3 separate regions of the Homo sapiens genome follow, and regions 1 and 2 are each linked to region 3. Evidence: fine-mapped expression QTL. A gene starts in region 3. Each other region holds a variant in brackets. All regions are shown on one strand. Distances are from middle to middle.

Region 1 (11,544 bases), 230 kb before region 3:
GTAGCAATTGCCAGGCATGGTGGCTCACGCCTGTAATCCCAGCACTTTTGGAGGCTGAGGTGGGCAGATCACCTGAGGTGGGGAGTTCGAGACCAGCCTGACCAACACAGAGAAACCCCATCCCTACTAAAAATACCAAATTAGCCAGGCGTGGTGGTACATGCCTGTAGTCCCAGCTACTTGGGAGGCTGAGGCAGGAGAATCGCTTGAACCCGGGAGGCAGAGGTTGTGGTGAGCTGAGATCACGCCATTGCACTCCAGCCTGGGCAAAAAGATCAAAATTCCGCCTCAAAAAAAAAAAAAAAAAGGAAGTTGTCTTTTTCAAAAATTCCCCAGGGAGACTTCTGCTTTTATTCAAGTTGGAGCAACAGTGACTAGATTTACTCCCTCACCTAAAACAACTACAAATCAAATATAATAAATGAAACTATGGTATTCAAGACAGTGGGCAGGAGGCAGGAAGGACAGTTATCCCTGGGAGACAGAATACAAATGAGGTGAGTGAGTCCAACAATTATCTCAAGTTTAAGAGAGATTCCGGGCTGTGGCATTGGGACAGGGAACCCAAATGGAGCCCTGCAGAGTACCAGAGTTGAAAGTCTGGAAAAAACAATGTGGCTAGAGTTCAAAGGACAGAGTATCAGAGAGTACAGAGCTGCAAAGAGTTAGAACCCAGCATATCTGAAAAATGCCTCCCTTTGAGTATTCATCAGAGTATTGATAAGCACATGTATCTGAGAAAACTACAGGAGGCCAGGGAAAGACCTATCAGAAAGGATTAAAGGAAATAGTATCCAGTGTTCACAAAGAACTGGAAATTGTGCATGTTTCTGCCAGTCTGACAAGAAAAACTTCTTAATGCATTGAACATTGAGTTGAGTACACAAAAGAGTTTTGCCTCAGTGGTGTGGAAAAATTTGCCCTACATAAATATTGCTGGTCCCACCTAACAAATCTTAAAAGCAAGATCTGAAAGGATCAAGCTGTTTCCCAGTAACACATCTGCTTCACAAAACAAAACTCAAGAATATTTATTATAAATACTTATCATTATAGTCAGAGATTTTAACATGTTATAATTGATATAACAAGTATACAGAAACCAGTAAGGACATAGAAGGCTTGAATAACATTACCAACCAACTTAATTGACATTTATAGAACACACCACCCAATAGAGCTGAATACAGTATTCTGAAATGCCAGTTGAAGCTTTACCAAGCTAGACCATATTCTAGGCCACAAAACAATACACTTAAAAAGATTTAAGCCATGCAAAATATGTTCTCTGATCACAAAGTACAGTAGTCCTCCCTTATCCTTGGGGGATACAAGCCAAGGTCCTAGTGGATGCCTGAAATCGCAGATAGGACTGAACCCTGTATATACTATGTTTTTTCCTATACTTACATACCTATGATAAAGTTTACTTTAAAAATTAGGCATAGTATAAGAGATTAACAATAATAACATAATAAAACAGAACAATTATAACAATATGCCAGCATCGTTGGTCTTGCACTTTGGGGCCATTATTAAGTAAAATAAGGGTTACTTGAACCCAAGCACTGAGGACCATTAATCTGATAACCAAGACAGCTATAGAAAAGACAAAAATGACCAATGTAAGAAATAAGAAAGATGGCATCACTATAGATTCTATAGATGGTAAAAAGATAATAAAGGAAAATTATAAATAACATTATGCCAGTAAGTTTGACAACTTAGATGAAATGGAAGGCACAAGTTCTTTGAAAGACACCAACTATCAAAGATTATTCAAGAAGAAATAACCTGAATATTGCAGTACCCATAAAAAAAATGAATTCGTAGTTTATTTATTTATTTATTATTATTATTATACTTTAAGTTTTAGGGTACATGTGCACAATATTCAGGTTAGTTACATATGTATACATGTGCCATGCTGGTGTGCTGCACCCATTAACTCGTCATTTAGCATTAGGTGTATCTCCTAATGCTATCCCTCCCCCTTCCCCCCACCCCACAACAGTCCCCAGAGTGTGATGTTCCCCTTCCTGTGTCCATGTGTTCTCATTGCTCAATTCCCACCTATGAGTGAGAATATGCGGTGTTTGGTTTTTTGTTCTTGTGATACTTTACTGAGAATGATGATTTCCAATTTCATCCATGTTCCTACAAAGGACATGAACTCATCATTTTTTATGGCTGCATAGTATTCCATGGTGTATATGTGCCACATTTTCTTAATCCAGTCTATCACTGTTGGACATTTGGGTTGGTTCCAAGTCTTTACTATTGTGAATAGTGCCGCAATAAACATACGTGTGCATGTGTCTTTATAGCAGCATGATTTATAGTCCTTTGGGTATATACCCAGTAATGGGATGGCTGGGTCAAATGGTATTTCTAGTTCTAGATCCCTGAGGAATCGCCACACTGACTTCCACAATGGTTGAACTAGTTTACAGTCCCACCAACAGTGTAAAAGTGTTCCTATTTCTCCACATCCTCTCCAGCACCAATAACAGACAAACAGAGAGCCAAATCATGAGTGAACTCCCATTCACAATTGCTTCAAAGAGAATAAAATACCTAGGAATCCAACTTACAAGGGACGTGAAGGACCTCTTCAAGGAGAACTACAAACCACTGCTCAATGAAATAAAAGAGGATACAAACAAATGGAAGAACATTCCATGCTCATGGGTAGGAAGAATCAATATCGTGAAAATGGTCATACTGCCCAAGGTAATTTATAGATTCAATGCCAACCCCATCAAGCTACCAATGACTTTCTTCACAGAATTGGAAAAAACTACTTTAAAGTTCATATGGAACCAAAAAAGAGCCCACATTGCCAAGTCAATCCTAAGCCAAAAGAACAAAGCTGGAGGCATCACACTACCTGACTTCAAACTATACTACAAGGCTACAGTAACCAAAACAGCACGGTACTGGTACCAAAACAGAGATATAGATCAATGGAACAGGACACAGCCCTCAGAAATAACGCCACATATCTACAACTATCTGATCTTTGACAAACCTGAGAAAAATAAGCAATGGGGAAAGGACTCCCTATTTAATAAATGGTGCTGGGAAAACTGGCTAGCCATATGTAGAAAGCTGAAACTGGATCCCTTCCTTACACCTTATACAAAAATTAATTCAAGATGGATTAAAGACTTAAACGTTAGACCTAAAACCATAAAAACCCTAGAAGAAAACCTAGGCATTACCATTCAGGACATAGGCATGGGCAAGGACTTCATGTCTAAAACACCAAAAGCAATGGCAACAAAAGCCAAAATTGACAAATGGGATCTCATTAAACTAAAGAGCTTCTGCACAGCAAAAGAAACTACCATCAGAGTGAACAGGCAACCCATAAAATGGGAGAAAATTTTCACAACCTACTCATCTGACAAAGGGCTAATATCCAGAATATACAATGAACTCAAATTTGCAAGAAAAAAACAAACAACCCCATCAAAAAGTGGGTGAAGGACATGAACAGACACTTCTCAAAGGAAGACATTTATGCAGCCAAAAAACACATGAAAAAATGCTCACCATCACTGGCCATCAGAGAAATGCAAATCAAAACCACAATGAGATACCATCTCACGCCAGATAGAATGGCAATCATTAAAAAGTCAGAAATTTGTAGTTTAAAAACTTTCCCACAAAGAAAATTCTAGGCCTAGCTGGCTTACTGGTGAATTCTACCAAATATTGAAGGAGAAATAACACCAATTCTTTCTCAAACTCTTTGAGAAAACTGAAAAGGAAGAATATTTTCTGACTTACTTAATGAAGAAAGCATTACTCCAATACAAAAACCAGACAAAGACAAAGAGAAGACTACAGACCAATATCCCCCATAGACATAGATATTCTCTGTTGCTGCTTCTATTAAACACTATACTAGAGGTTCTAGCCAATGCAGTATGGGAAGAAAAGAAATAAAAGGCATCTAGATGGGAAAGGAATGTCAATATTAGCAGACAACATGACCGTCCATGTGGAAAATTTGATGGAATGTACAGAAAACTGACTAGAACTAACAAGTATGTTGAGTGAGGTTGCAGGACACAAGGTCAATACACAAATAACAGTTGTATTTCTATATACCAGCAACAAACTATTGGAAATTAAAATTTTTTTTTTTTCGTTCTTTTTTTTTTTTCTTTTTTTTTTTTATTGATCATTCTTGGGTGTTTCTCGCAGAGGGGGATTTGGCAGGGTCATAGGACAATAGTGGAGGGAAGGTCAGCAGATAAACAAGTGAACAAAGGTCTCTGGTTTTCCTAGGCAGAGGACCCTGCGGCCTTCCGCAGTGTTTGTGTCCCTGGGTACTTGAGATTAGGGAGTGGTGACACGACTCTTAACGAGCATGCTGACTTCAAGCATCTGTTTAACAAAGCACATCTTGCACCGCCTTTAATCCATGTAACCCTGAGTGGACACAGCACATGTTTCAGAGAGCACAGGGTTGGGGATAAGGTCACAGATCAACAGGATCCCAAGGCAGAAGAATTTTTCTTAGTACAGAACAAAATGAAAAGTCTCCCATGTCTACTTCTATCCACACAGACCCGGCAACCATCCGATTTCTCAATTTTTTCCCCACCCTTCCCGCCTTTCTATTCCACAAAACCGCCATTGTCATCATGGCCCATCCCCAATGAGCCGCTGGGCACACCTCCCAGACGGGGTCGTGGCCGGGCAGAGGGGCTCCTCACTTCCCAGTAGGGGCGGCCGGGCAGAAGCGCCCCTCACCTCCCGGATGGGGCGGCTGGCCAGGCGGGGGGCTGACCCCCCCACCACCCTCCCGGACGGGGCGGCTGGCCAGGCAGAGGGGCTCCTCACTTCCCAGTAGGGGCGGCCGGGCAGAGGCGCCCCTCACCTCCTGGATAGGGCGGCTGGCCAGGCGGGGGGCTGACCCCCCCACCACCCTCCCAGACGGGGCGGCTCGCCAGGCAGAGGGGCTCCTCACTTCCCAGTAGGGGCGGCCGGGCAGAGGCGCCCCTCACCTCCCGGATGGGGCGGCCGGCCGGGCGGGGGGCTGACCCCCCCACCTCCCTCCCAGAATGGGCAGCCGGGCAGAGGCGCCCCTCACCTCCCGGACGGGGCGGCTGGCCAGGCGGGGGGCTGATCCCCCCACCTCCCTCCCGGACGGGGCGGATGGCCGGGTCGGGGGCTGACCCCCCACCTCCCTCCCGGACTGGGCGGCTGGCCGGGCGGGGGGCTGACCCCCCCCACCTCCCTCCCGGACGGGGCGGCTGGCCGGGCAGTGGGGTCCTCACTTCCCAGTAGGGGCAGCCGGGCAGAGGCGCCCCTCACCTCCCGGACGGGGCGGCTGGCCAGGCGGGGGGCTGATCCCCCCACCTCCCTCCCGGACTGGGCGGCTGGCCGGGCGGGGGGCTGACCCCCCACCTCCCTCCCGGACTGGGCGGCTGGCCGGGCGGGGGGCTGACCCCCCACCTCCCTCCTGGACGGGGCGGCTGGCCGGGCAGAGGGGTCCTCACTTCCCGGTAGGGGCGGCCGGGCAGAGGCGCCCCTCACCTCCCGGACGGGGCGGCCGGCCGGGAGGGAGTCTGACCCCCCCACCTCCCTCCGGACGGGGCGGCTGGCCGGGCAGGGGCCTGACCCCCCCCTCCCGGACGGGGCGGCTGGCCGGGCAGAGGGGCTCCTCACTTCCCAGTAGGCGCGGCCGGGCAGAGGAGCCCCTCCCCTCCCGGACGGGGCGGCTGGCCGGGCGGGGGGCTGACCCCCCCCCTCCCTCCCGGACGGGGTGGCTGCCGGGCGGAGACGCTCCTCACTTCCCAGACGGGGTGGCTGCCGGACGGAGGGGCTCCTCACTTCTCAGACGGGGCGGTTGCCAGGCAGAGGGTTTCCTCACTTCTCAGACGGGGCGGCCGGGCAGAGGCGCTCCTCACATCCCAGACAGGGTTGCGGCCCAGCAGAGGTGCTCCTCACATCCCAGACAGGGCGGCGGGGCAGAGGCGCTCCCCACATCTCAGACGATGGGCGGCGGGGAAGAGGCGCTCCTCGCTTCCTAGATGGGATGGCGGCCGGGCAGAGACGCTCCTCACTTTCCAGACTGGGCAGCCAGGCAGAGAGGCTCCTCATATCCCAGACGATGGGGGACCAGGCAGAGACGCTCCTCACTTCCCAGACGGGGTGGCGGCCGGGCAGAGGCTGCAATCTCGGCACTTTGGGGGGCCAAGGCAGGCGGCTGGGAGGTGGAGGTTGTAGCGAGCCGAGATCACGCCACTGCACTCCAGCCTGGGCACCA[T/C]TGAGCACTGAGTGAACGAGACTCCGTCTGCAATCCCAGCACCTCGGGAGGCCGAGGCTGGCGGATCACTCGCGGTCAGGAGCTGAGACCAGCCCGGCCAACACAGCAAAACCCCGTCTCCACCAAAAAAAAAAAAGGAAAACCAGTCAGGCGTGGCGGCGCGCGCCTGCAATCGCAGGCACTCGGCAGGCTGAGGCAGGAGAATCAGGCAGGGAGGTTGCAGTGAGCCGAGATGGCAGCAGTACCGTCCAGCTTTGGCTCGGCATCAGAGGGAGACCGTGGAAGGAGACCGTGGAGAGAGAGGGAGACGGAGAGGGAGAGGGACAGGGGGAGGGGGAGGGGGAGGGAGAGGGAGAGCTAAAAATTTTTTAAATAAAATTTACAATAGCATTAAAAAATATACAATTCTTAGGGGTAAATCTGACAAAAGATATGTAAAACCTGTACTTTGAAAATTGCAAAATATTGCTGAAAGAAGTTTAAAATTTAAAATAACAGCAAAATCTGCCATGTCCATTGATTAGAAGACTCAGTATTGTTAAGAAGTCACTTCTTCCCAAATTAAGCTATTGATTCAATGCAGTTCTCATCAGAATCTGCTAAAGGACTTGTATTCAGAATAAAGAATTCTCAAAATTCAATAACAAGAAAACAAATTATCAAATTTAACAGTGGGCAAAAAAAATCCTGAATACACACTCAACCAAAGAAGATACATAGATGACAAATAAGCAATGAAAAGATGATCATTTGAGAAGTTTAAATTAAAACCACAATGAGATTCTAATACATCTACTAGAATGACTAAAATGGAAAGGACTCACCAACCAAGTGTTGACAGACCTTTCCCATGCTGCTGCTGGCAATGTAAAATAGAACCACCCCTCTGGAAAACAGTTTGGCAGTTTCTTTAAAAGTTAAACATATACCTACCACATGATCTAAGCATTTCTACTCCTATGTATTTACTCTAGAAAAATAAGAGCATATGTCTAAATAAAAGATTCTACATAAATGTCACAACAGCTTTATATATAATAACCCAAAGCTGGAAACAACCCAAATGTCCATCAATGGATAAATGGATAAATATACTGCATATAACTGCACACAACAGAATACTACTCAGCAATAAAAAAGGAATGGAAGACTCAAACACACTACAATATGCAAGAATTAAATATAAATAATTATGCTGAGTGAAAGCATGCTCAAAATAGTTATGCTGAGTGAAAGAAGCCTGATGAAAAAGAATACAATTTGTTTGCTTCTATTTACATAAATGCTAGAAAATGAAAATGAATCTATAGTGAGAGAAAGCAGATAATATTTGCCTAGGGAAGGGTAGGAAGGACTACAAAAGAGCAGGGGAAAACTTTTGGGGGTGATAAATATGTTCATTATTTTGATTGTGGTAATAGTTTCATTAAATAGGGAATCCTTTTAACATATATATATATATACATATGTTAAAACTTATCAAATTGTACACTTGAGATACGTGCAATGTATAGCAAATCAATTATACTTCAATAAAGCTGTGTTTCAAAAAATTCTATCCAAGTGATCCTGAAACCCTATCAGATTTTGGAACCCTTAAACTAAACCAAGCCTTTAACACCTATGCCACCTTGGGCAGAAGGCTGCCTATTCTGTTTCCAAACAGAATAGGCAAATCGTACCTCTGTACATACCTCTGTACGATTTGAAGAGTGGTCTCTCTTCTCTAGTCTGAACTTTAAAGAAACATTTATTTATCTTCTTGTATATTTAGAATGTTTTTCTCTGGACCCTCTAGCTTCCCTGTAGTGTAAAATTAGAACAGTCTGAGAGTTGTGATTAAAATTGACTATTGCAGAGTAACGACCTTTGGGCTCCATATGCTTGCAAATCATATTCCCCTTTACACACTCTAAAATTATGCATTGTTTATAAATAATAACACAGAATTGATCAGCAATATATGGATTGAATTCCACTATGACTCCTAAGTCTCTTGTCTTATTTATGGCCTAGCTGTTCCCATCTTCCATCTATCTTTGGTAAAGCGTAGGATCACCATAGCATGTTACTTGAACTTGATCTTACAGCCCTTCATAAAGTACACAATTGTCACTTTTATGGTTTAAGATCATTTCATTTAATCTATAACAATCTTCCAGAGTACTCATATCAAGGTTTTCCTTTGCCAACATATGAGTTTATTTTCAATTATTTATGCATGACACAGAAATTCAGAATAACTCCAGCATTTGGATATGTATTTATAAAACAAGATTCATGGTTGACACTAAGCCCTTCATAACACTTTTCAAATATAACCCCCCAGAGAAGCAGGCCACTTCCTACAGGAATATGGTCTGGCCTACACCACATCCTTTGAGTTAGTGCTAAAATGTCATGTGTGGCTGAATCAAAATCCTTTCTGAAGTTCAGCTGAATTGCTTCCTAAATGTATGTATAAACTGTCAATCTCTTCATGAAGGAAATTAAATCGATCTGGTACAATTTGCTCTTTGCAAAGCCAAGACAGTGACTACCCAGTGCTTCATGCTCTCCTATGTGGTGACTAATTGATTGTTCAATGATTTCATCTAGTGCAGAATCTTTAAAGGTATCAAAATTAACTTGACTGGCTTATAGGAGGTATAATTTACTCCCCTTTTAAAAAGCTGGGCACTAAAACTACTTTGGTTTAATCAACAAGCCTTTTTACATTTTTTTTTTTTTCAGACGGAGTCTCGCTCTGTCACCCAGGCTGGAGTGCAGTGGTGCGATCTCGGCTCACTGCAACCTCCGCCTCGTGGGTTCATGTCATTCTCCTGCCTCAGCCTCCCAAGTAGCTGGGACTACAGGCGCCCACCACCACGCCCGGATAATTTTTTTGTATTTTTAGTAGAGACAGGGTTTCACCACGTTAGCCAGGATAGTCTTGATCTCCTGACCTCGTGATCCACCCGCTTCAGCCTCCCAAAGTGCTGGGATTACAGGTGTGAGCCACCGCACCCGGCCTACTATTTTTTTTAATTATTTCATGCAGACACCCAATTTCCCACTTTAGGCCACTAGACCTCCAAGGAAGGAACTCCATCTTGCTTATCTTCTATTGCCTTATAGAACTGAATACCATGCTTTATGTATAGCAGACATTCATAAATATTTTTTGACTTGAATTTGAATTCCAAAAATAATTGTTGCATTCTGTAAGTAGCCCACAATACACAGAATCAGATTAATTTTAGTGTTTTACCTGTTAGTTCAGCATTCTACTCAACAACTTAGGAAGCATTTTATATTATCCATAAATTATCAATGAAACTGTTTTTTCAGGTGGGACATGTCTTTATAGCTCATTTGGGGATAAAAATTACTTCAGTGTGGGCCAACACTATTCATATGTGGTGAATATAAGGTAATATCCCAGGTCCTCTAGTACATTTTCACAGCTCATAAATAAAAATGTACCACTTCTTTCATCTTACCTTATGAGCAATAAATTAAGGTTTATTTTTGTCAGTCAGTGGATAAATGAATAAATAAATTGTGGTGTATCTATAAAATAAAATGCTAATCAGTAATAATAAGGAAAACACCAGTGATACACATAAGAACATGGATGGATCTCAGAAACATCAGGCTGAGCAAAAGAAGTCAGACACAGAGTACATACTATGTGATTTCATTTATCTGAAACTCGAAAAACAATCCAGGAGCCTGGGGAAAATGATGAGTTGTACTCAAGGAAAGAGCACAAAGGAAGCTTTCTGGGTCATGTAAATATCCTGTATGTTGAATGAGGGGATGTGTGGGTATGTATACAGTTATATATGTATATGCTTATACATACATATATACTCATCTCTACCTATTCACTCACATATGGATATTTGTATACACTTGTCTAAATTCATTGAAATGTACACTTGCAATGTGTGCATTTTATTTTTTGTCTCCTTCCTTCCTTCTTTTTTCTTTCTTTCTTCTTTTCAGAGACAGGGTCTTGATCTGTTGCCCAGGATGCGGTGCTGTGGCTCAAACATAGCTCACTGCAGCCTTGAACTTCTGGGCTCAAGCCATCCTTCCCCCTCACCCTCCCAAGTAGCTAGGACTACAGGCGTGTGCCACCATGCCCAGCTATTTTTTTATTTTTTGTAGAGACAGAATCTCCCTATGAGACCAGCCTAAGCTGGTCTCAAACTCCTGGTCTTAAGAAACCTTCTTGTCTCAGCCTCCCAAAGTGCTGGGATTATAGGGTGAGCCATGGTCCTCAGCCTCATTTTATTTTTAAGTGCAAAAAATTGAGTTTTAAGTGTTGATTTTTAAAGGTCCCTGTCCTGGAGAAGCATAAACTTGATCTGATTTCTTATTGAAGAATCCTCTAACATCCTGAATTTTATTTAAGCATATAATATTAAGGTAAAACTTGCATTAAAAATTATGTAACTGGTCACTTAATGCCTGTCTTACATCTTTCTCATCATGAGCTCTTTGAGAGCAGGGACTGTGTGTGTGTCTTGCTCATTGATTACTGTATCTGATGGCTCCCACCATGCCTCATAGCTAGTAGGCATCCAATAGATACTTGTTGAATGAATATCCAGTCCATTTTAATCAATAAAGCTCCTTCTATACACAAAGCATAGTAGTGAGCAATGCAGGAAATACTAAAATAGGTCAGATGTGAAGAGCTAACAGTATAATAGGATCAATACCCAAATAATGACTATTATGTATTATATGTATTTTAAGGGTTTTTTGTGGGGAGTATCAGAACAATTCGAATTTCCAAAAAAGATCATCATTTTTGTTGAAATACTATGCTGATAGTATGTATTTCAGCAGCCAAAAGATAAAGGAAAGGAATATACACACAAATTTAGGCTTCTCTCGAAAAGCTTACAATGCTAGAAACTGGGAGTCACTTTCTTAGTTATTTCCCCTGCTTAGGTAAGCAATGTTAAGGGAGTACTCAAACAGCTGTGTTTTCTGGTATTCACAGAGAGGGAAACTACTAAATATCTCAACTCTAAGCCACCTCTGCATGTAACTTTCATGTACTCCACCCATTATCTCCTCCAACATTTTGGGTAAGAGATCAGTCACTTAGTCTTTTAAAAGTAAGAACATAAAGTAGTTAACTAGGAGGAAAAAAAATCATTGCCCAATCATGATTCAACAGCTGCAGAATTTAAGACCAAAGAGGAATGTGGTATTGCTGGACTTGCTTATTGGACTATGTGCTGTGAGTGTGCCTTTAA
Region 2 (11,544 bases), 190 kb before region 3:
TCTTTCTTTATTCCTTTTCTTAATCTCACCCACTCTCACGGCTTCAACCCACATTCATTTGAAGATGACTCCCAAATCAATTTCTACAGATGAGACCACTCTCCTGATGCCTAGACCTTCTCAACAGCCAAAGGCCTATTGGGAAAGCTCTTCTAACTGTCCCACAGGCTCCACTCACTCAAAAATATCTAAAATGGAACCCATCCTCCCTCCCCATCCTCACCCTAATCTGTTCTTCCTGTAGTCCCTGCTTCAGCAATATGTCAAACAAGCCAGAAACCGTCAGATGTGTCTGACTCCCACCTGTCCCTTGTCCCTTATCCCACACTTTCAACAGCTTTCTAATCAATTCACTTCTTCTCTATCCCTACCACCAATACCCCTAGTTTAAGGTCTCAATCAGTTTTTATCTGAACCATGTCAACAGCCTCTGACTGGTTTCCCTACTCCAATCCATCCTCCATGAAAATATGGTAAAAATATGAACCTGAATGAATAATGTAAATTATTGCCATGTTTTCAGACACGACTGTGTAATATGGTTTCTGCTTACTTCTCCAGTTTATTCTTTTGCTGCTGCCCCCTTTCCACCCTTTTCAACAGTTCCGAGATCCCTCTTGCCAAGGCCTTCCATATATGCAGTTTCCTCAAAACCATCCTATCTTCCCTACTCCCACCCCAACCAGAACGCCCTTCATCTGGTTAATTCCTATTCATCCATTCTGCTTTAAATATCTTATTTAACAGATCCTAATGCAGTATTTATTGTGTTTTCATTTCATTTTATTTTGAGGACAGTCTCACTCTGTCACTCGGGCCGGAGTGCAGGGTATGATCATGGTTCACTGCAGCCTTGACCTCCTGGGCTCAAGCGATTCTCCCACCTCAGCCTCCCAAATAGCTGGGCCTACAGACATATGCCACCACACCTGGGTAATTTTTTTATTTTTTATTTTATAGAGACAAGGTCTAACTATGTTGCCAAGGCTGATCTTGACTTCCTGGGCTCAAGTGATCCTCCCACCTCAGACTCCCAAGTAACTGGGACTATAGGCATGTACTACTATGCTCAAGTAATTTTTTAAATTTTTGTAGGAACAGGGTCTCACTATGCTGCCCAGGCTGGTCTTGAACTCCAGGTTTCACACAATCCTTCTGTCTTGGCCTCCTGAACTGTCAGGATTACAGGCATGAGCCACTGTGCCCGGCGAATATTTATTGTGTATCAAGTACTGTTCTAAGGGCTGTATGAAAAATGAGGCACAGAAAGGTCAAGTAACTTGTCCAAGACCCATAGTCAACAAGTGGCAAAGCCAGGATTTGAACCTAGGCAATCTGGGTTACTAGGAAGATTTCTGTGCTCACACACCATCCAGTGCATACCTCTATCATAATGTTTAACTAACTACTGGATTTTCCTCCTCCCTTGTCTATCTCCCTCACAAAACAGTCAGCTTCTCAAAGGTATAAACTCTATCTTAGTTGTCTTTGAATGTCTAATTCTTACCCCAGGAACTCCGACTGAACATACAGACACTAAATGTCTACTGAATGAATGAATGAGTTAGCAAAAGGTCATAATGGATAAAGCAAACATTTCTAAAACTGTGTTCTTTAAAGAGATAAATAGGCACCCACCTCCTAAGAGTCTCCATACTTCTTTATTTGCAAGTCACTTAATATTATATTAATGCCTACAACCTCTTTTTTAAATGTTATGTTTTATAGAATCAGAATACTCAACAAAACAATAAAAGTAACCAAGCAAAGCTACCTTATGAGAGGGATGTCATACATTTTAAATTCACTAAAATAGCTTCATTTGATAAATTATTCTTTTTATTTTAGTGTAAAATTATAGTTAGAAATACTACCAGAGCCATGACAATAATTAGAATAGAAAAAGAATGCAACAGTTGACTATCTTCCCATCTAATGCTGATTAGTCACAGAGAGGAAATGCCAGTCTCAGAGCACATTTCTAACAACAACAACAAAAACGTGGCCAAGTACGGTGTCTCACAACTGTAATTCTAGCACTTTGGGAAGCTGAGTTGGGTAGATGGCTTGAGGCCAGGAATTCGAGATCAGCCTGGCCAATATGGCAAAACCCCATCTCTATTAAAAGCACAAAAATTAGTGGGGTGTGGTGGCCCATGCCTATAGTCGCAGCTACTCAGGAGTCTTAGACACAAGAATCACCTGAACCCAGGAGGTGGAGGTTACAGTAAGCCAAGATTGCGCTACTGCACTCCAGCCTGGGTGACAGAGCGAGACTGTCCCAAAAAAAAAAAAAAAAGTGTCTCACTCTGAATGAAAAGATGTCATATCCTCTTAATGGATAAAACTATATATAACAGAGATTAAAAGTCACTTTAGAGCACTTGTATGAGAGAACAGAGTATAAAATGAAGACGGTTCATATGCTATCTACACATGTGGCCTTCTGGGTCAACAGTGAACAGAACACCAGTAGTATAGTATCGTATTGGTCAATTACAGGTACTTAAATAGTGTCTACTACTTGCTGAAGATGTTACAGGTTTTTCAACAAAAGACTTTAATGTGCCATGAAAATTTAAATCATAGCACACATCTAGTACTTAATTTCTGTGACAAGGGAGCATTCTGACTTTGAACTCTTTGGCTAAGCCTCCTTTCGCCTTATGTATACTTTCACAGCACCCTCTTAGTTTCTTTCCAATTATCCTATTCCCTTCCTCTAAAATATTTGTCTCTTTCTTTTAAAATTATTGCTGATTTGTCCAAAGATTATCAGGGGAAAGGGTCCTGACTAAATGACATAAACTTATCCTGTCCCTAAGGCTGAATAAATAAATAAAGTAAATAGCCCAATGGTAAGAGGCTAGCTTGATGGTCAAACAGGCTGGTTTTCACATCTCAGCTCTACCATCACATACCATATGACTTTGGACAAATTACTTAAGCCTCTCTGTATCTCAGTTTCCTCATATGTAAAATGGAAATAATATTAGCAGAACAGTTGTAAGAATTAAATGAGATGATGTATGTAAATCGCTTAGCATGGTTCCTGAAACGTAAGTGCTCAATAAATGGAAAATATGGAGGTGAGTGGTTGCCTCAGACCTCACACCAGATTCTGAGCACTGCCACAGTATTTTGTATGAAAGGACTCTATCTGCATAAGATTCCAGGATTTTGGAGTTGTTATTGACTGTAAAGATCACCAAGTAAAATCTTCCATTTTAGAAATCTTTTCTAGGATTTCTTAAATCCTCCATGTCAAGCACTAGATAGGTAAATGAATTGGTTCAGTTTGCCTGTCTTGTTAATGAGAAAGCCACAGTCTTTTAAATAAAATTCTCTTCTGAATTTTATTTAAAAGACTCAAAAGTAATAATGAGTACAATCGAAATATCATTGTGTATCACTGTGAACATACATTCAAACTGTAGGTTAGTGTTCTCACTCACAAACGGGAGCTAAATAATGCATACCTATGGGCATAGAGTGGAATAATAGACACTGGAGACTCGGAGGGGAGGATGAGAGATGAGAAATCACCTAATGGGTAAAACAATGTACACTATTCAAGTGATGCTTACATTCAACGCCCAGATTTCACTACTACACAATATGTCCATGTAACAAAACTGCACTTGTCCCCCTCTAAATCTATTAAAAAATGAAAACTAAAAAAAAATCTATATGTTAGAAACCCATATTACACTTCGCCCTGAGTAAGCTAAACTGTTTCTGGTATAATATTGCCAACAAAGGAAAGCTCTCCATAGGTATACAAGGTATGTCATATATAGGACTCAGTTTTCTCTTCTGTAAAATGAGAATAATAATTATGTGATTCTCAGGACTATTATGAAGATGAAGTGAAGTGACATGTACAAAAGCACTTAGTACAGTGCTTCACTCTGATGTCTCAAAATTTACTGGGCTGATAATGATCTCTATTCTTCAGAGCAAATTCATCTACAGTGACATGAGTTTTCGACAAATCTTTTCCACTGCTGCCATTTAAAAAGCATACTTTGGTATAGAGCCCAGGATGTTTTGAAGAAAGCATGGCCTCAATGCTAATGGACTGGCTGTGTTCCAGCATCTTTTTGTTGGGAACTCTCCCTTGCAACCAAATGTTAAATACAGATCATAGGTGACCTTGATAAAACTACTCAAGAAGGCAAATTTGACATCTTTCTTTCTTATGCATAAAACTCCAGGGAGTTTCAAGGCCCAGTGGTAATGGCCTATGGAACACAAAGGGCAACACGCACAATTCCCTTTAGAACTTCCAATCCTTCCAATCTTATGCATAAGCCATCTGCTTAGAGTCACCTGAACAGTGAGAATTTAGAGTCTTCATGCTCAGGTTTCTGGAGTAAATTTATAAATACAATTAATGTGACATAGAAGGCATGCCCACGCACTGCATGACACTGTGTAAAGCCCCGTATCCAGTTCTTTGTCTCAGCAATCTGAGAGAATAAAGATCTTGCAGATGTGGGTTTCTGCCCCATTAAACAGGACTACATAATCTTGTGACTACATTACTGCCACGTACTCTACCCTGAACCCTAGAACACCACCTGGAATTATGTGGCTAGGTAGAATAGATGAGACTTTTTACAATAAAACACTGAAGAAAACAATTTTAAAAACATCTGGTTTCCAGGTCTTGCAAGTTGTCATATATTGTGTACAGAAGTTTAGGTAGATGGACATTCATGAATGAGTTGTTTAAAACTTTAGTCTCAAGCCCCATTCTCGGCAGTCTCTATGAAGATATACAGAGAATATACAGAACACCCACAGTTCCTTTGATAACTTGCAACAGTTCTCACTTTAAGTATTAAATGCCTCCTCAATCAATGTATGATACAATGTATCACTGGTTTAATCATTACAAAACAACTTGTAAAGAGGAAGTGACAGAATTTGACTCATCCAGTCACTGCAAGCTTTTAGAGTATGCCTTTGGTTCAGAAAAGAGTGGATAGATGGTCAATAGATCTTGGTAACTGACTTCTCTCACACCACATGGAATAGAAAAAAGATAGACGGAGCCTATAAATTCCTTGGGTTCAGTGTCTCCCTAAGAGCTCAGCTTAGTGATAACTTTATAGTAGACATTTAATTCTATACTAGTAGAAATTAAATTGATTTAATTCCTTTACTATTCATCTTCATATAAGAAATGTTACATATATGCATTTTATATGTAAATGTGATCTTACATGACTGTCAGTCTTTTTTCTTTCTTTTTTTTTTTCTTTTTTTGAGACAGAGTCTCACTCTGTCACCCAGGCTGGAGTGCAGTGGCACTACCATAGGTCACTGAATCCTCAACCTCTCAGGCTTAAGCCTCAGCCTCTAGAGTAGCTGGGACTACAGTCATGTGTCACCAGACCTGCCTAATTTTTTTAATGATTTGTAGAAACGGGGTCTCCCTATGTTGCCCTGGTTGGTCTCAAACTCCTGGGCTCAAGCAATCCACCCACCTCAGCCTCCCAGAGTGATGGGATTATAAATGTGAATCACCACGCCCAGTGGCTGTCAGTCTTAAAAACATATATGCTGATGTTCTTTGTGCTGGTATTGGCTCTTTATCAAGGTATTTTTGTGAATATGACTACACACACATTCCTTTTCTCCACATTTCCCTTCCCGATTCCCTGCCCACATTTTAATATGACTTTCAATTCAGGCAGGTCAGAATGAATCTATCCTATTTCAAAAATCCTAGAACTCTACACTGAATGACGGAAGGATGGATAAAGACACTCTTCACATAACACCAAGACTTTTAACACAATGAAGCTGGGTCTGGGACAAAAATGTATGGCCACAGTTGAAGAAGCCCCCTATGTCTTTGTTCTAGGATGTAAGTCTAAGAGGGAGTGGAGTTTACAGACATCATGTAGGACATAGGCTTACTTACTGAAGTCTGAGACTTTGGGGATCCTTAATCCTTAAGCCAATAAATAAGCAAGAGTATCATAATCTTCTGCCACGAAGTGTTTCTTAAATATATGAGCAGTTCAGGAGTTTGAGGCT[G/A]CACTGAGTTATGATCACCACTGCACTCCAGCCTGGGCAACAGAGTGAGACCCTGTGTCTAAGAAAAAAAGAAAAAAAATTATATATACATTTTAGGTTGGTGCAAAAGTAATTGTGGTTTTCAGTTCAAGACATTGTGGCAAGTGACTGGACAGGAAAAACTGAGTCTTCCTGCTGTGTGAGAGAGGTTCTTCTCTTCCCTTGGGGTGAATTATGTTTGTCACTCTGTACATTTTCAGGTCTTTTTTTTTAGGATTATAAAACTATAATCATAGTAATCTGGCAGAGAATTCCCATAGGGGTTGGGAAGGAGGATGCTTGAGTGATTAGTCACCAAAGAGAGCCCAAAGAAGTGGACAGAGCTGGTAAACTGGTGAGAGAGCCTCAGGCATTCACCAGATTCAGAAGATTGCAATCATCTCTTTTGGCAAATGAATATAGAACATTTTTCTCCAACAGAAAGAAGAGCTTAGCCGATGTACCAGAAAGAGACATAAGATTTGAAAACAGAAAAAGGGGATCATGTTTCCATCTGATCTCGGAGGAAACAAATGTGGAACAGGCAAGATGTAAACAAGATGTATTAGTTTTTTATCGGTGCATAACAAATCACCAGAAATTTAGCAGCTTAAACCATCACTCATTTATCAGTTCACAACTCTTTAGGTCAGAAGTCTGGTATGGCATGGTTGAGTTTTCTGCTCAGGGAATCACAAGGCTGAAATAACAGTGGCAACCAGATTGAGTTCTCATCTGGAGGCTCTAAAAAAGTTCTGCTTCCAACCTCATTCTTCCTGGCAAAATTCAGCTCCTTGTAGCTGTAGAATTGAGGTCCCCATTTCCTCTCTGGCTGGCAAACAAGGGCCACTCTCAGCTAAAAAAATTCCTTGCTACGTAGCTGCCTCCATCTTCAAGCCAGCAAATCCTTCTCCTGCTTCGTCTCTGACTTCCCGTCTCTGACCTCTAGACCCAGATTTAAAGGGGTTATGTCATTAGGTCAGATCCACTCAGATAATGTCACTGCTTTATGGTCAACTGATTTGGGACCTTAACTACATCTGCAAAATCCTTCCACAGCAGTATCTAGATAACGTATGGCTAAATACCTGGGAGAGGGTGTGTGTACAGCAGGGCCGGGAATCTTGGGGGCCATTTTAGAATTCTGCCTACCACAGGAGACACCTGTTATCAGGGCTTGTGGTTTCATGTGAGACCATGGCTTTCTAGCTTAGAAAGATAAAGAACCAGTACAAACCAAAGCACTTAGAGATAAGTGGGTCTTAGACAATGCCAGAGCTTTTAAGGCTCTGGATTCACAGAGAAACACAGAAGGCGTATGTCTTTGTCTAATGTTCATCCTATGATACCCAACAGAGTCAGGAATGAGGCAGGAGGGGACTTCGAGCTGGTTGTTCCCATAAATTTTGCCAGCACATAGAAAGCACATAGTAGGATGCTAAGTAAATACTTGTTGAATAAAAGAACTAAGCCCATTTGAAGGCAAGCATTAATTAACATTAGAATCACAAATCTGAACTCAGCATATTCTGTGCTTTTTTCTTTCTTCTGTCTCCCTAAATCTGCAGGAAGATGTCCAGGGCCAAGTTTTTCCCCACTCTCTACCAGGATATTTAGAGTGATCAGTGTGCCTCTGATGGGCAAGCAGCCAATGAGAGACAGTACTGCAGGAGGGACACTCAAGGACAGCTGTCTTGATGATCCCTTTCCACTGCAGCTTCAGCTCAAAACTTGCCCTCCCTTTTGCATTATAATTAACCAAATTTAGGCCGTTAGAGATAAGGAAAGAGAGAAGTAATGTTATTTGAACTTCTCCTATGTGTCAGATATATTACATAAGCTCGTATTTAATTCTCATAGTAACCCTATGAAATGGGTATTATTTCAAATGAGGAAATGATAGTACAGAGATGGCATTTGAACCTGGGTATTCCAGACCCCAAGACCTAAACATTGTACTAATCTTGTTCCATGCATTGCTAACTTTTACACCTGTGATGATTTTTTTCACTGCCTTTTAAGTTTAGGGTCATCTTTCACCTATCATATCTTTCTTGTTTTTTAGAGATGAGGTCTTACTATGTTGCCCAGGCTGGAGTGCAGTGACTATTCACAGACATGATCATGGTGCACTACAGCCTCAAGTTCCCGGTCTCAGGTGATCCTCCTGCCTCGGCCTTCGGAGTAGCCCCACAGGCATGCACCACCACGTCAGCATCATCTAACATTTTTTAGAGCCACTCTTCTTACTTGAACCCTGAATTCCCAGCTTGACCAATCCCTGCTGAGGTACTGTCTTTCCAACTATCAGCATAGAACAGTTTTTACTTTTACTTCTGCTGAGCTTATTTCCAAGTGACTGCTAGAGGACCCAATAAGACTACTGATATTGTTCAACTAGGTTTGTGTACCTGGAAAATGTCCTCTGAATCCTAGCACATTAACATTTTCTTTGAGGATACAGAAAATAACAATAACAAAAAACCTAAGCTTGATATTTTTCTGCTCAATCAAGTTCTTCCCCACCCTCAGGACCCCTCAACACATTTTGGACACATTTTGCAGAGCCAAGCAAGCCAACCCAAGGGATTTATACTCACTTACCCTTAGGATTTGTGGTCTATGTTGTGAAGTAAAAACCCCCACTAAAAAGGCAACTTTACTGAGAGAGAAATGAAACCAACACCAACTCATATGTCATTTTGTTGTATGGTCAGTCTCTCAGTGTGCACTACACTGTATCAGCATTAGGGAAAATTAAGTGAGAAAAACATTACAACAGCCCAGGGACACTTCTACCTAAATTTTGTGATTACATTTTAAGTGCTCTCTGTCACAGATATCATAAACTGATTAAATCATTTCATGCCTGACCCCTACTGACTATGCTAAGTGAAAAGAGAGGGCTATTAATAACTACCCATTTCTGACAGCTGCCCAGGGGCAACGCAGCCTTTTGCAGCAGTGAAATGACTCCCCAGCTCACTTACTGAATGCTGAATATTGATTCATATTATGAGTGTTGTCAAACACAAGAGTGCAGTGCTGCAGATCCGTAGTGGCAGGTCATCAGGAATAGCATTAGCAAATGTCAGGTCAGGAATCAAAGGCCTGCTGGACTCTTTAGGGATGAGATTTATCGATTCCATAAAACGTGAAACAGATCAAGTACTTGTGATGATGGAAATGGTCGTGGCAGAATGAGGCTGAGCCTGCTCTGATGTAGACCTCAGGAGAGATGCATCACACAAGTGACCACTGAAGAAAATGCTAAAAGTTGGAATTTCCAGGACAAGGCCAACAGCGGCTTTGGGCTAAGAAGGAGATTTTAGGGCTAAATGTCAGAACTTAGATGTGAAATTGGTCATAGGTATAGGGGTATGTGCATGTATGTGTGTGTGTGTGTGTGTGTGTGTGTGTGTGTGTGTGTGTGTGTGTGTCCTAGCAGTCTAAGATAGCCAGATCCAAAAGAATATGATCAGATACTGATGAATGTTATAGACAAAAGATAACTCTCTATATAAAAGATGCAATTTGCTAATCTTACCTCTTACATAAAATTTTTAAGAGAAATTTACTTACAGTTTATTTTTTCTATTCTTTAGTCTTACTTAAAGTCTAAATTTTCCTCTGATAAGAGAAGGCAAAAAATATTAGAATCTTATAGCTTGTTCATCAAAGGATCACTGTAGACTTGTTTTAAATGAGTTGATGATCCCTCCTTTTGAAGATACTTAAATTATATCTGGCTTCTAGATTTTCATCATTAGAATTAATTTTTTAATCAAAGGCTCCCATACTGTCACTCCACTCTTGTATTATTCTACAAGGTGTCCATTAAAACTGTGCCTTCATAATCCCCTTCTCCCCTCCGGTATCTTCATCTTGATATAGTTAAAAAAAAAAAAAAAAAGACCGAGTCTAGAAGTTAGAACACCGGATTCTTCTAATCCTTACTCTGCCACTTATCTTGTGACCATAGACAAGTCACAACCTCCCTGTATCTCAACTTCCTCACCAGCAAAAAAAACAAAAACAAAAACAAAACAAAACAAAACAAAAACTGCATGTGTACTAGCTCTGAGAAAGGTTTTATACAGAGGATCAATAATAGACCATAAGTTCCACGAGGAAGAGCAGGGTACATGTATTATGACTCATTTTGATGTTCTCAATGCCTAGTAAAGAGACAGGCTCAGAGTAGTAACTGATTTTTTAATTTAAATAAAAGATGGATATACTTGGGGACTGTAAAGGTTTACTAAGTTTTATGTTTCTCTTATTATATGTTTATTTGCTAAGTGTAGTACTTGGTCTAGCATCACTGGGAATGTTTTGGAACTCGCATTGCTAATGGTGGTTTGCAGAAGCAATCCTTTCACCTCTCCTAAGAGCAGGACACAATGTTTTCTTTAATTTTGCCCCATACCGTGACAGAGCCTTGAGGTCTATGTAAGGGAAAGCTAGCAGCTGCTAAGTTCTAATTCTGTTTATTATATCTGAATAGGTAAATGTAAGTTGGTTGTCATCTAAAGCTTGAAAGAGTTTCTGCTCTCTATGGAAAATTTGCTGTTTGGACCAGTGTATTATGTCCTCATTGATTAGCTTTTATCTAAAAAGTAAATTTCAGAAAATTAAACAAAATTATTCTTTAAAAAATTATTTATAATAACCTAGTCATCATTGGATTACATCAGATAATTCTACCTCTTAAATAAAATTTTTAAAGGAAATGTACTTACAGTTTATTTTTTCTATTCTTTAGTCTTAAAGTCTAAATTTTCCTCTGATAAGAAAAGGCAAAAAATATTAGAATCTTATAGCCTGCCCATCAAAGAATCACTCTAGTCTTGTTTTAAATGGGTTGATGAGAGAAAATGAACAGGTGCTACAGATTACTTGGCTGATCTAAAATTAAAGATTGATATTTTTCCTCTTGTTCTATTAGCAGACCTTTAGTGACATGTTAGCACTGGATAATGGTTGCAGCAGTTTAAGCCTCATGCTGTGATTTTTAACAGAAAGCCTAGCTACAGCAGCAAACAATGACATCTCCCCAAAGCTAGTAACCTAATAAGGAAGCAGTTGCAGCCTTAGGCAGTTTGACTAAACAGCAAGAGAAATCTGACTTCCAATGTACTGACTCCACTTTAAAGACAATGGCCTGGCTTAATTAACACTGTATTCATTTGTAACTCAATCAATTGTAGAATTTTTGTCCTTTAACCATTGACTCTACCAGCTCAAAAAGAAAAAGAAGGCTCAAGCTGCTGGAAGTCTTGATTTGTATAAACAGGCATTTCTGAACCAGTGACAAAATAAATAACCCTTGGCATTAATTGCTAACTTTCCCAAATGTCCAGGTAATCACTGAAATAATCATTGACACAGGAAAAGAATTTCATTGACTATTTTAGGTATAAACATGGGATGTATTTAACATAATACCAAAATTTAAATGTTTTTCTCATACTC
Region 3 (9,886 bases):
GACATTTGGGATCCACTCAACAAAAATGGCCAATTCCAGTTACCCTACAGTTAAAAGGACAGTTAACAGAATTCTGAATCCCTATATTTATATATGAATCTATGCTCAGGGATGCAAGTAAAAACCAGAAAACCTTATCCTTTACATGCGGAAGCTATAGTGTTTCCCGTTTTTAAGACACAGCAACAGGCCGGGCATGGTGGCTCACACGTGTAATCCCAGCACTTTGGGAGGCTGAGGTGGGCAGATTGCTTGAGCTCAGGAGTTCGAGACCTGCCTGGGCAACATGGCAAAACCCCATCCCTGCCAAAAAAAATACAAAAATTAGCCAGGCGTGGTGGTGTGCACCTGTAGTCCCAGCTACTCAGAAGACTAAGGCACAAGAATCGTTTGAACCCAGGACATGGAGGTTGCAGTGAGCCGAGATCACACTGCTGCACTTCAGCCTGGATGATGGAGTGAGACTTTGTCTCAAATAATAATAATAATAATAACAATAGCTGCTATTTATTTTGAGTCTATGATGTGGCAGATTCCAAGCTAAACATTTTACAAATATTATCTCAAATACTCAAAACAACCTTCCAAAGTATGTGTTATCACTCCCATTAAGTGAAGAGAAAACTGAGGTTAGAAAGTAAAAAGTTGTCCAAATTCCAACAACTTATGGAAGACTTATATGACAACTATTACCAAAAGGATTCAAGATGGCTTAAAAAGATGAACAATACAACAAGATAACATTTATGAAGAAAAAGAGAAAGCAAAAGTAAGCATATAAAACAAAGTCAAGAATAAAGGTGAAACAAAAATACATTCCAAAACAATCTAAATACTTGATATAGATCAGTGAAGAGCATCCAGTACGTGGTAGTAGACCTAGGACTGGATCAAGACTTAGATGCATCTGACGCCAGTGTCAAGTTGTATGCTTGCCAAGTTAACTGTGCTTCTTCACAAACCTTTTTATTCTACTTATTCTTCAAAATAACAAATTAAATTTGTCATCAATTAAATATTTAACTTGTCATTAATTAAATATTACAAAACTAATAACATAGAGCTGAAAGGGAGTTAACGTTACCCTAAAAGCCAAGTTGAATGTTTGAGAAAGATAAAGGTAAGTTGCTTAAAAGTTTACTATCAGTTTAGGTGTTGGAAGCCAACTATAAACATTTGAAGAATTACAAATACCTAGAAAGATTTGACACTCAGAAAATAACTTCACTTGGAATATGTATCGTTATTACAATTCACCTCTTAACCAACTTTTTCAATTAGCCAATCCAGGAAAAAGCATCCTGCTTTGATATAAACTGAACTGTGAAATATTCCATAATCAGATTCTTCAGCCAAGTATTCATACCTCTAGGCAACATTTTTCATTCGGTAGGTGGTTTGTAAATACGTGTGTAACAGTCATTGCTACTTTTTCATCTGCCCTACATTGCCTCCTTTTAGGAACTGCCCCTCTCTCACTCTATGTAATTCTAGTGAGGTTGTTACCTTACCTGCCACAGGGTAGGCTGATAACCCAGGTTAGCCAAAGTGCCCCATTCTGGACACAGCAATTGGTCTAACCTTGGCCTATCAGAGTCCTTTGGAGGAAATGATTTGGATGTTGGGGAAAAGAGTTATTTCTTCTGGATTACTAGCTGGATGGATATGAAAGCCCGGAGTTGCCAGTGGCCATCTTCGTCAACATGTAATGAGACTCAACAAAGAGGAAAACAGAACAACATCCATAACCTCTACTGATATTGATTCATCATCTTCCAGACCTCATCTAATTTAAGTACTCGCTTGACTCAAATCTTGGCAACTTACCATGTAACCTGGAACCAAATGATGCACTAGGTCAACCAGGTTTTCTCTCAAAACCTATGTTTTGTTAATTACAAAACACAGAAAATACTGAATAGTTAACATAAAGTAAAAGGCCATGAGACAGCCTTGGAGCTCTATAGGGTAATGGAAAGACAGAATTTTAAAGGAAAAAACAAGTAGACAGAGCAGATGTTCTTCAGATGTCCCACGAGCGAGAAAAGGAGTCACATATCTCTAGCACTGCTTAGATTCCTTATAGTTTTCCAGTACTAGATGCATATAGGATAGGAATGGTTCATTCATTTGAAATACATTTACTAAGAGCTTGTAAATGTTTAATATATGTGATCGATTAAATTGTAATAGAAAAATATTCACTTCCTCTTTGTCACCTCCAAGGAAGGAGTTGTATTTCCCTGCCCCTTGAATTTGGCCTTTGCCAAATATCTTACTTTGGCCAATAGGAAATAAACACATGATGTGAGCAGGGGTTTAAAATGTGTCTCTGTGGTTGGGCTTGCTCTTATACCTCTGCTATCACCATGAGGACTTCAGCCCACTAGTCCAAAGATTAGAGACATATGGACCACATGTGCATCATAGAGATACCCAGATGACTACAGCCTATGTCGGTCAGCTCCCAGGTGGCCCCCAGATGCACCAACAAAATAAATACTAACTGTTGTATGCCACTGTGATGTTGCGGTTCTTACTTAGCAATAGCTTACTGATAAAATACACTAAGGACTAGGTGCTATGCGCCACTTAAAGACTGTCCTTACTCTCAGGCTTTCCACAGACACTGAACAACATCTACTAAAAATCAATTAACCAGGCCCTGTGCTAGGTGCAGAGGATGTAAATTAATAAAACATCACCTTTTCCCAGGGTGAATGCCCATTCTAGTAAGAAAAAGAGACCCTGATCACATGATCATAAAATAATATAAAGGGCTCATTGGTAGAGTTGGCTGAGGGTCTAACTTAGCCCAGAGGCATTAGGGGTGGCTTCACAGAAGAGTAGTTTGAAATGGAAGTGTGAAGAATGAACAATCATTCACCAAGTAGAGAAGATAAAAAGACTATAAGCAGGCAGATATATACCAAAAGTTTCGATGTCAGAACGTGTGGGGACTTCATGTAACAGCCACAGCTGAAACTTGTCACTGTTTTCATTTAGACCGCAATTTAGAATGAACATAAGTGCTGTAGTTTTTACTATACTGAGAATCACTGAAAGCCAGGTATCATGGCATACCCCTGTAATTCCAACTACTCAGGAGGCTGAGGTGGGAGGATTGCTTGAGCCCAGGAGTTACCTGCCTGGGCAACAAGCAAGACTCTATCTTATTTAAAAAAAAAAAAAAAAAAAAAAGGAAGGGTGGGGGCGGTGGGCGTGGCAGGCATGGTGGCTGATACCTGTAATCCCAGCACTTCGGGAGGCGAGGCAAGTGAATCACCTGAGGTCAGGAGTTTGAGACCAGCCTGGCCAACATGGCGAAACTCCGTCTCTACTAAAAACACAAAAATTAGCTGGGCGTAATGGCGAGCACCTGTAATCCCAGCTATTCGGAAGGCTGAGTACGGGAGAATTGCTTGAACCAGGGAGGCGGAGGCTGCAGTGAGCCGAGATTGCGCCATTGCACTCACGTCTGGGCAACACAGTAAGGCTCTGTATCGAAAAAAAAAAAAAAAAAAGAAGGGGGTTGCCGGGCACGGTGGCTCATGCCTGTAATCCCAGTACTTTGGGAAGCCGAGGTGGGTGGATCACCTGAGGTGGGGAGTTCGAGACCAGCTTGACAAACATGGAGAAACCCCGTCTCTACTTAAAAAAAAAAAAAATTAGCCAGGCGTGGTGGTGCATGCCTGTAATCCCAGCTACTGGGGAGACTGAGGAAGGAGAATCATTTGAACCCTAGAGGCGGAGGTTGTGGTGAGCGGAGATGGCAGCCATTGCAGTCCAGCCTGGGCAACAAGAGGGAAACTCCATTTCAAAAAAAAAGGAGGGGGGAAGGGGGGTTGAGTCCACTCTCCCCAGCTCACGCCAGATCTCATTTCAGTGGTCACTATTAAAAAAAATTAGATATTTACTTTATTATAGATACTTCCTATGATGATCTGTGAGGACATGCATTTTCTTATCCTGTAATACCATTTGTAACAATAGCAAAACCAGATCATTACTGGTCTGGAAAGACTGTCAATGTATCAGCAAATAAATCTTAATTAACTCTGATGATCTACTTAACTCATAACTCTAAAAGCACTAAAAGACCACTGTATGAAAAGGTGACTCAAGGCAACTGCAAACAAAGTGATCCCCAAAATACTAAAAGCACAATCTCAAGTAAAGTGGCAATAGCTGGGAAACTCTTTTCCAAACACAACTGTCAGAAATGGAAAAATGTCCTCCTGAGTAAAGTTTTCGGCAGAAAACTTCAGGCAGAGGCATAACACTGCTATGCAAAAACAATAACCAGACTTCACTTCAAGAAGTGAGCGAAGAATGTGAGTGATCATAAATCAGAACTTCCGTCAAGCTTGCACGAGTGGAGTTGTAAGTAACAGCAGAAACTTTGAAGTACCAGAAGATACCATCATTCAAAAACGAACACACTTTGACTAGCCCACCTTGGACACGGAGAATCTCGCTGATCACTACAAACTACAAGATAATCATTTAACTTTGAGACCTCAGTGAGAGAGGGTATCAGCTTTTCCTACTCCTTGCACGCTCCGCTGTACGGAAGATGCCGAGGGAACGCATGCCGTGTCTCAGTCCCGGCATAGTCAACCACGCTGGGCAAAAGACGGGGCCAGAGGGTGCAGACGAATATCGGTAACTCGAACCAGGCTGGGAGTTAAGCTAGAAGAAACTGGGGAAGGAGGCAAAACAGAAGCAGGAAAAGAGCAGTGGGGAGCGGCGGGCGCACCAGAGACTGGCGAGAAGGGGAAAAGTCCCCCAGACGCACAAAAATGTCTAGAAGGGGTTCTTCTACTTCGATCTGAGTTTCCCAGGAGCTCAGCCTTGGCTGTCCCGCTCCCCACCCAACCCCACATGATTCCTCCTCTTGGATGGGACGCTTAGGTGAAGCGAGGGGGAGCTTCGCAGGTGGCTCCCGGCAAACTGAGAAGGGTCTCCCAGAGCTGCCAAGAGGAAAGAACTGCGAACAGTCGCTCCCCCGGTACGTGAGAGAGGAGTGACCAGAGGCAAAGGTGAGGCGAGCAGGTTCTCCCTTACCTGCCGCAGGAGCTTCCACCGGGCGGCTCCCAGGGGCGCCGAGACTACGGGCCCCCGAGTGGTGCAGCCAACTGCCGGACTCCCGCCCGCTGCTCGCGCGGTCTCGCCGGTCCCAGCGTCCGCGACTCGCGACTCCATCTCACTGGAGCCTTCCACACCCGGAGGTGCCACCGCCGCAGCTCGTCCCCTGCCAGGACCTGCCAACTTCTTCCCTGTCAGGACCTGTGACGCCCGGCACCCTCCCTCCACCGGACCAGGCATGCGCGCTCTCCCCGAATTCCGCATTTCCGGTACTCGCATCTCCTTGGCAACCAGGGCCGAGCTGTCACGCCATTGCACCATTCTTGCTGGTAGCCATCTTGAGTGAGGGCGGACCAGAGGATGAGAGAGCTGTGGCAGGGCTACTGGAACGCTGTCCCTCATTGTTTTAGCCTTCTGTGCTTCATCTCGAGCTCAGAAGACTAGCGAAGAACGAAAAGTCTTATATATTTCGAGACTAAAGAACCCAGGAACCCAAGAAGACTCCTTGACCACAACAAAGATGGCGAAATCTGCCTGTTGCTCGTGCTAGATTGAGGTTACGTAGATTGGCGTGCTGCAAACCAGCTCTAGGCGGCTCTGGGTAAGTTGTCGTTCTGTGGGCTGCGGAACGCAGACTTCGGCTGGACTTGCCTGCGGTGACACCTGCTCCCCTCTGAGAGCTTCAGGTTCTCCGGCCTGCCTTCACTGGTTTGTGTCCAGAGCCGGACTGATTCTCTCAATTTGCGTATGTATGGGGGGTGTGCTGGTCTCTTTCCTTCTCCCCTTTCTCCCCCCGCCCAGCCACCCACCCCTCAGTCCCCAGGTCCTCGCTTTTTGACTAATGTCCCGGCACTGCGTGCGTGTCACCTGGTCCCTCTCCCTGTTGCATTCAGATCGCCTCATCCCTGGGGTGGAGAGTTGCACGGGGTAAACGAATAGGTTCTCCTGAGAACACCCATTTATCTACCCCACCCCCATCCTAGCCTTGCATACTGTCTTCTTGGGGATGAAAGATGGATGGATAAAGGCTGTGGGAACGTGGTGATGTAGGACCTTTGCAGGTCCTTGTTATTCGGGTCTTTTTTCCCCTTTTTTTACTAGTGTCGGCTAGTAAACTAGTGTTGCTCCCCTACCCCCAATCGCCCATTATTTTGCTGCGACATGGAAAGGGATTAAGGGGGGCGGGGGCGTCGTAGCGCATCTGATCTATGGTAAATTTGACGCAGCATTCTACCTTTGATACCAGGGGGCATTTTGTGGAAGACTTCCATAATGACATTCAGCGGTGTGCAACATACCTAGATTATTCCTGTCGTAAATAATAGCAACTGCCATTTATTGAGTGGTCACTATGTGCCAGGCACTGTATGGTCTTAATGTTAAGCTGTCTCATTTTGTCTTTACAACAACAACCCTAGAAGGTAAATGGTGTCATTTCATTTTTGCAGATGAAGAAACTGAGGCCCGGAGACACAGTTAAGTGTAGGAGCTAAGACCTCAACCCAGGTCTCTCTGACTCTTAACTACTTATTAGCAATCAAGGTTAATAAAAGCTACCTCCTGACAAACCAGAGATGGCCTTACATTTTATTTGTGCATCTTGCAGGGGTTTTTTGTTGTTTTTAATTAAAGCGCTAAATACCTTTTTAACATTAAAAATCCGAAGTTGAGTATGTCCAGTATTTGGAACCGAACCAAATTGGATTTTTTGCTATACAGCTTACTGTACAAGTGACCTGGAACAGTTGCTTAGAACCTCCCACAGCCACAGTTTGGCAACCTGTAAAATGTGCATGGTAATATCTACTTTATTAAGTCCATATAAAATTTAAATTAGACAAACAAGATAAAAGCACCTGGCAGTTAGTTAACACTCAACAATAATTAATCTTCCCTCCCCCACCTTTATTAAATAATTAGGCTTTTCCAGTTTATCTTCCACATATATACCAAAGATACGTTCATAATTATGTAAGACCAAAGGGCTTTTTACCTTTTACAGCCCTGAGTTCCTGAGATACCCCATTAAGTCTGTGTACTTATTTGCAAATTTATATTTTGTTTCTTGTTTTGTTTTTTGTTTTAGTTTAACCCCTATGTGTGCCAGAGTCAGTGCTGCATAGTTTGAGCCTGATAGGATTAACTTTACAAATGAGACATTTAAGTCACATCTGCCAAGAATTATGATTTGAATGAAACTTTAACTTACACAGGTTTTTAGATTTAGTTAGCCTAAGTTATCAGCTGTCTGAAGTTATTCATAACCTAAGTGGGGCATGGCCCTGAAAAGGAGGGATGAGAACTGCTGATCTTAGTTACTCTGAGAACCCACTACTCTGTAATCATACCTATAAAATCATTCGTGTGCTGGCAGCCCCAAAAGGAGCATAAACCAGGGACTTTGATATCATGCAGCAGAAGACCAAATTATTTCTCCAAGCTTTGAAGTATAGTATTCCTCACCTTGGAAAATGCATGCAGAAACAGCATTTGAATCACTATAACTTCGCTGATCATTGTTACAATAGAATAAAATTGAAAAAATATCACCTAACCAAGTGTCTTCAGAATAAACCCAAGATATCAGAGTTAGCAAGAAACATCCCAAGTCGGAGCTTCTCATGTAAGGTATGGACTGTTTAAGTTAACCTATTTGTAGGTCATTAAGATTAATTTTAATTTAAAAATAAAGAATGGGTAGAATATCAGAGCTACTAATTTTCTCAGTAATTCTAACTTGATTTTTCTAATTTTCAAGTCTCAATTGTCTCTAGTCAAAAGTAAGTATAAAAGAGTATATACATCGAGGCAGGCAGATCACCTGAGGTCAGGAGTTCGAGACCAGCCTGGCCAACATGGTAAAACCCTGTCTCTACTAAAAATACAAAAGTTAGCTAGGCGTCATGGCACCCACCTGTAATCCCAGCTACTTGGGAGGCTGAGGCAGAGAATCTCTTGAACCCAGGAGGCAGAGGTTGCGGTGAGCTGAGATCGCACCACAGCACTCCAGCCTGGGTGACAGGGAGACTCTGTCTGAAAAAAAAAAAAAAAAAAAAAGTGTATACATATATTTATAGGGCTCTAATGTAATATATAAAAATGTAGGTTTATAAAAAATGATTCACCTCAGGACTTCCTTAGTATGCCTGCCAGTGCATTTCAAAGTATAATTCGGCCTTCTAAATTTCCTAGAACACTAAATTATAGCTCTTAATAAAATCTAATGATACGCTAATTGTTTTATGAATCACAAATCAGTAAACTTCAGTAAAGGCCATGAATTGTATTTTATTTCTCTGTAAAAAAATGAAAAATAATCTTGCGTTTTTGACCACTTGAGTCATTCAGGAAGACACTGTCAGAGTATTGTACTTCTGCCAGACCCCAAGCTGTGGGCGTGAACTCAACCTTAAGGACCTGATTGCCCTTATATAGAGAGTAACCACATAACCACTTTTGCCTGGCACAGCTCCAGCCTACACCTGTTGTCCCTGTGTAATTATTAATAGTGTCCCCTTTCCTCTCAAAAGTGTCCTGGTTAGAATGGTAAATTATATGGTCATCCTACAGTAAGTAGGATTAAATGATCTATTTGTGCTGCTGCTGCTTTGACATCCCTCTCCTACCTTTTACTTCTTATGTTCCTTAGGTTCCTTAATGATATTTGGGGGTGGTATTCTTGCAATAGTTTCACAAATTTATGATTTTAATATTTTTTTTATTTTAATTTCTGGTTTTGTCGCATACTGATTTTTCTTTTAGTCTGTTTTGGCTTCCTCCTTTCTTCGGGTAAAATATATGTATAACAAAGTTTTCCACTTGATCCATTTTAAAGTATGCAATTCAGTGGCTTTCAAAGTTCATCTGTGTTGTATGCATGTATCATAACTTCATTTCTTTTTATAGTTGAATAATATTCCTTTGTATGTATAAACCACATTTTGTTTATCCATTCCTGTAATTGATGGACACTTGGGCAGATTCTTCTCATTTTAGAAACTATCTTTTCAATCTAATTTTTCTCAGTTTTTCTAGTTTTTGTTCAATTTTTGCCGCTATCTTAGCTGATACCTATTTAGGTGTTGTGTGTGTCTCTTTTGCTTTTAACATTTTATATGTTAGCCCCCTAGTCTTCCTAGACTTTTACTGTTTATGTTTTAGTCTTTGAAATTCTTTTCCTTTTTGTAGTGTCTTGCCTTAGTTTAGTACTTTCTTTACTCATTTAGAAATTCTTTATAACTTCTTTTTATTTCATTTTTGTGTTTTTTGTACATCTTTCCTACTTCAGAAAGATAAAATTTTTAATTTCACCTATTGAACTAAATTTTGGACCTTTAGGTTATTTTATTTTGCATTGTGTTTAGAACATTTTGTCATGTCGTACTTTGTCTTAACACTTAGTTTATAAATAGTAGACAGGAATTACCATCAGAGTAACAGCTGTGATATTAGCTCACATTCTAAACAGAAGGTTGACTATTTCTTCCCTCCATTTGTTCCTGAAGCAACTTTTCCGTTCTCTTTTATAGATTCCCACTACCTGGAAACTTTAACCTGACTCAATAACTCCAAGTATTAATAGTTCATTTAGTAATTCCTTTACCTGATAAAGTAATCCTGCTGTCACATGTCATGTATCAACCATTCCCTCTATGAGAAATGATGTAATGTAAAAGCCATGGTCTTTATCACTGAGACCTGGGGAAGCTTTATAAAGATGCCCCGGCAGCTGTGAAAACACCTGTAGAGAAGAATGCACATTTCCTTCTTTCAGCAAGCATCCACTGATTTCCAACTC

Direction of the effects. Positions count from the first base shown, and alleles are read on the strand shown. Sizes are in standard deviations (SD) of each study's normalised expression. Not every link is listed here.
For the expression in thyroid of the gene that starts at base 5,266 in region 3, C is the high allele of the variant in region 1 and T is the other (moderate effect, 0.41 SD a copy in GTEx).

Evidence for each region. PIP is the estimated chance that this variant, and not a neighbour inherited with it, causes the effect.
Region 1: its variant is fine-mapped to the expression of CAMKMT in thyroid (GTEx, PIP 0.97).
Region 2: its variant is fine-mapped to the expression of CAMKMT in whole blood (TOPMed, PIP above 0.99).

The regions. Positions count from the first base shown.
Region 1 is chr2:44,582,527-44,594,070 of GRCh38, reverse strand. All of the region lies in intron 3 of CAMKMT (calmodulin-lysine N-methyltransferase), which reads right to left. Among named protein-coding and RNA genes, the nearest start is that of CAMKMT, 230 kb to the right of the region's middle. RefSeq lists an enhancer at 4,150-4,849. The variant T/C (reference allele first, on the strand shown) is at 6,287.
Region 2 is chr2:44,544,120-44,555,663 of GRCh38, reverse strand. The region is part of intron 3 of CAMKMT (calmodulin-lysine N-methyltransferase); the gene reads right to left. Among named protein-coding and RNA genes, the nearest start is that of CAMKMT, 190 kb to the right of the region's middle. RefSeq lists a silencer at 1,880-2,174 and an enhancer at 10,830-11,544. The variant G/A (reference allele first, on the strand shown) is at 6,052.
Region 3 is chr2:44,357,327-44,367,212 of GRCh38, reverse strand. CAMKMT (calmodulin-lysine N-methyltransferase) reads right to left here and starts at 5,266. Exons shown (of 11, transcript NM_024766.5): 1 at 5,068-5,266. The coding sequence starts at 5,205. It overlaps PREPL (prolyl endopeptidase like), which reads left to right and starts at 5,719. Exons shown (of 14, transcript NM_001171613.2): 1 at 5,719-5,833. RefSeq lists enhancers at 4,559-5,452, 5,171-5,640, 4,877-6,076, 5,453-6,347.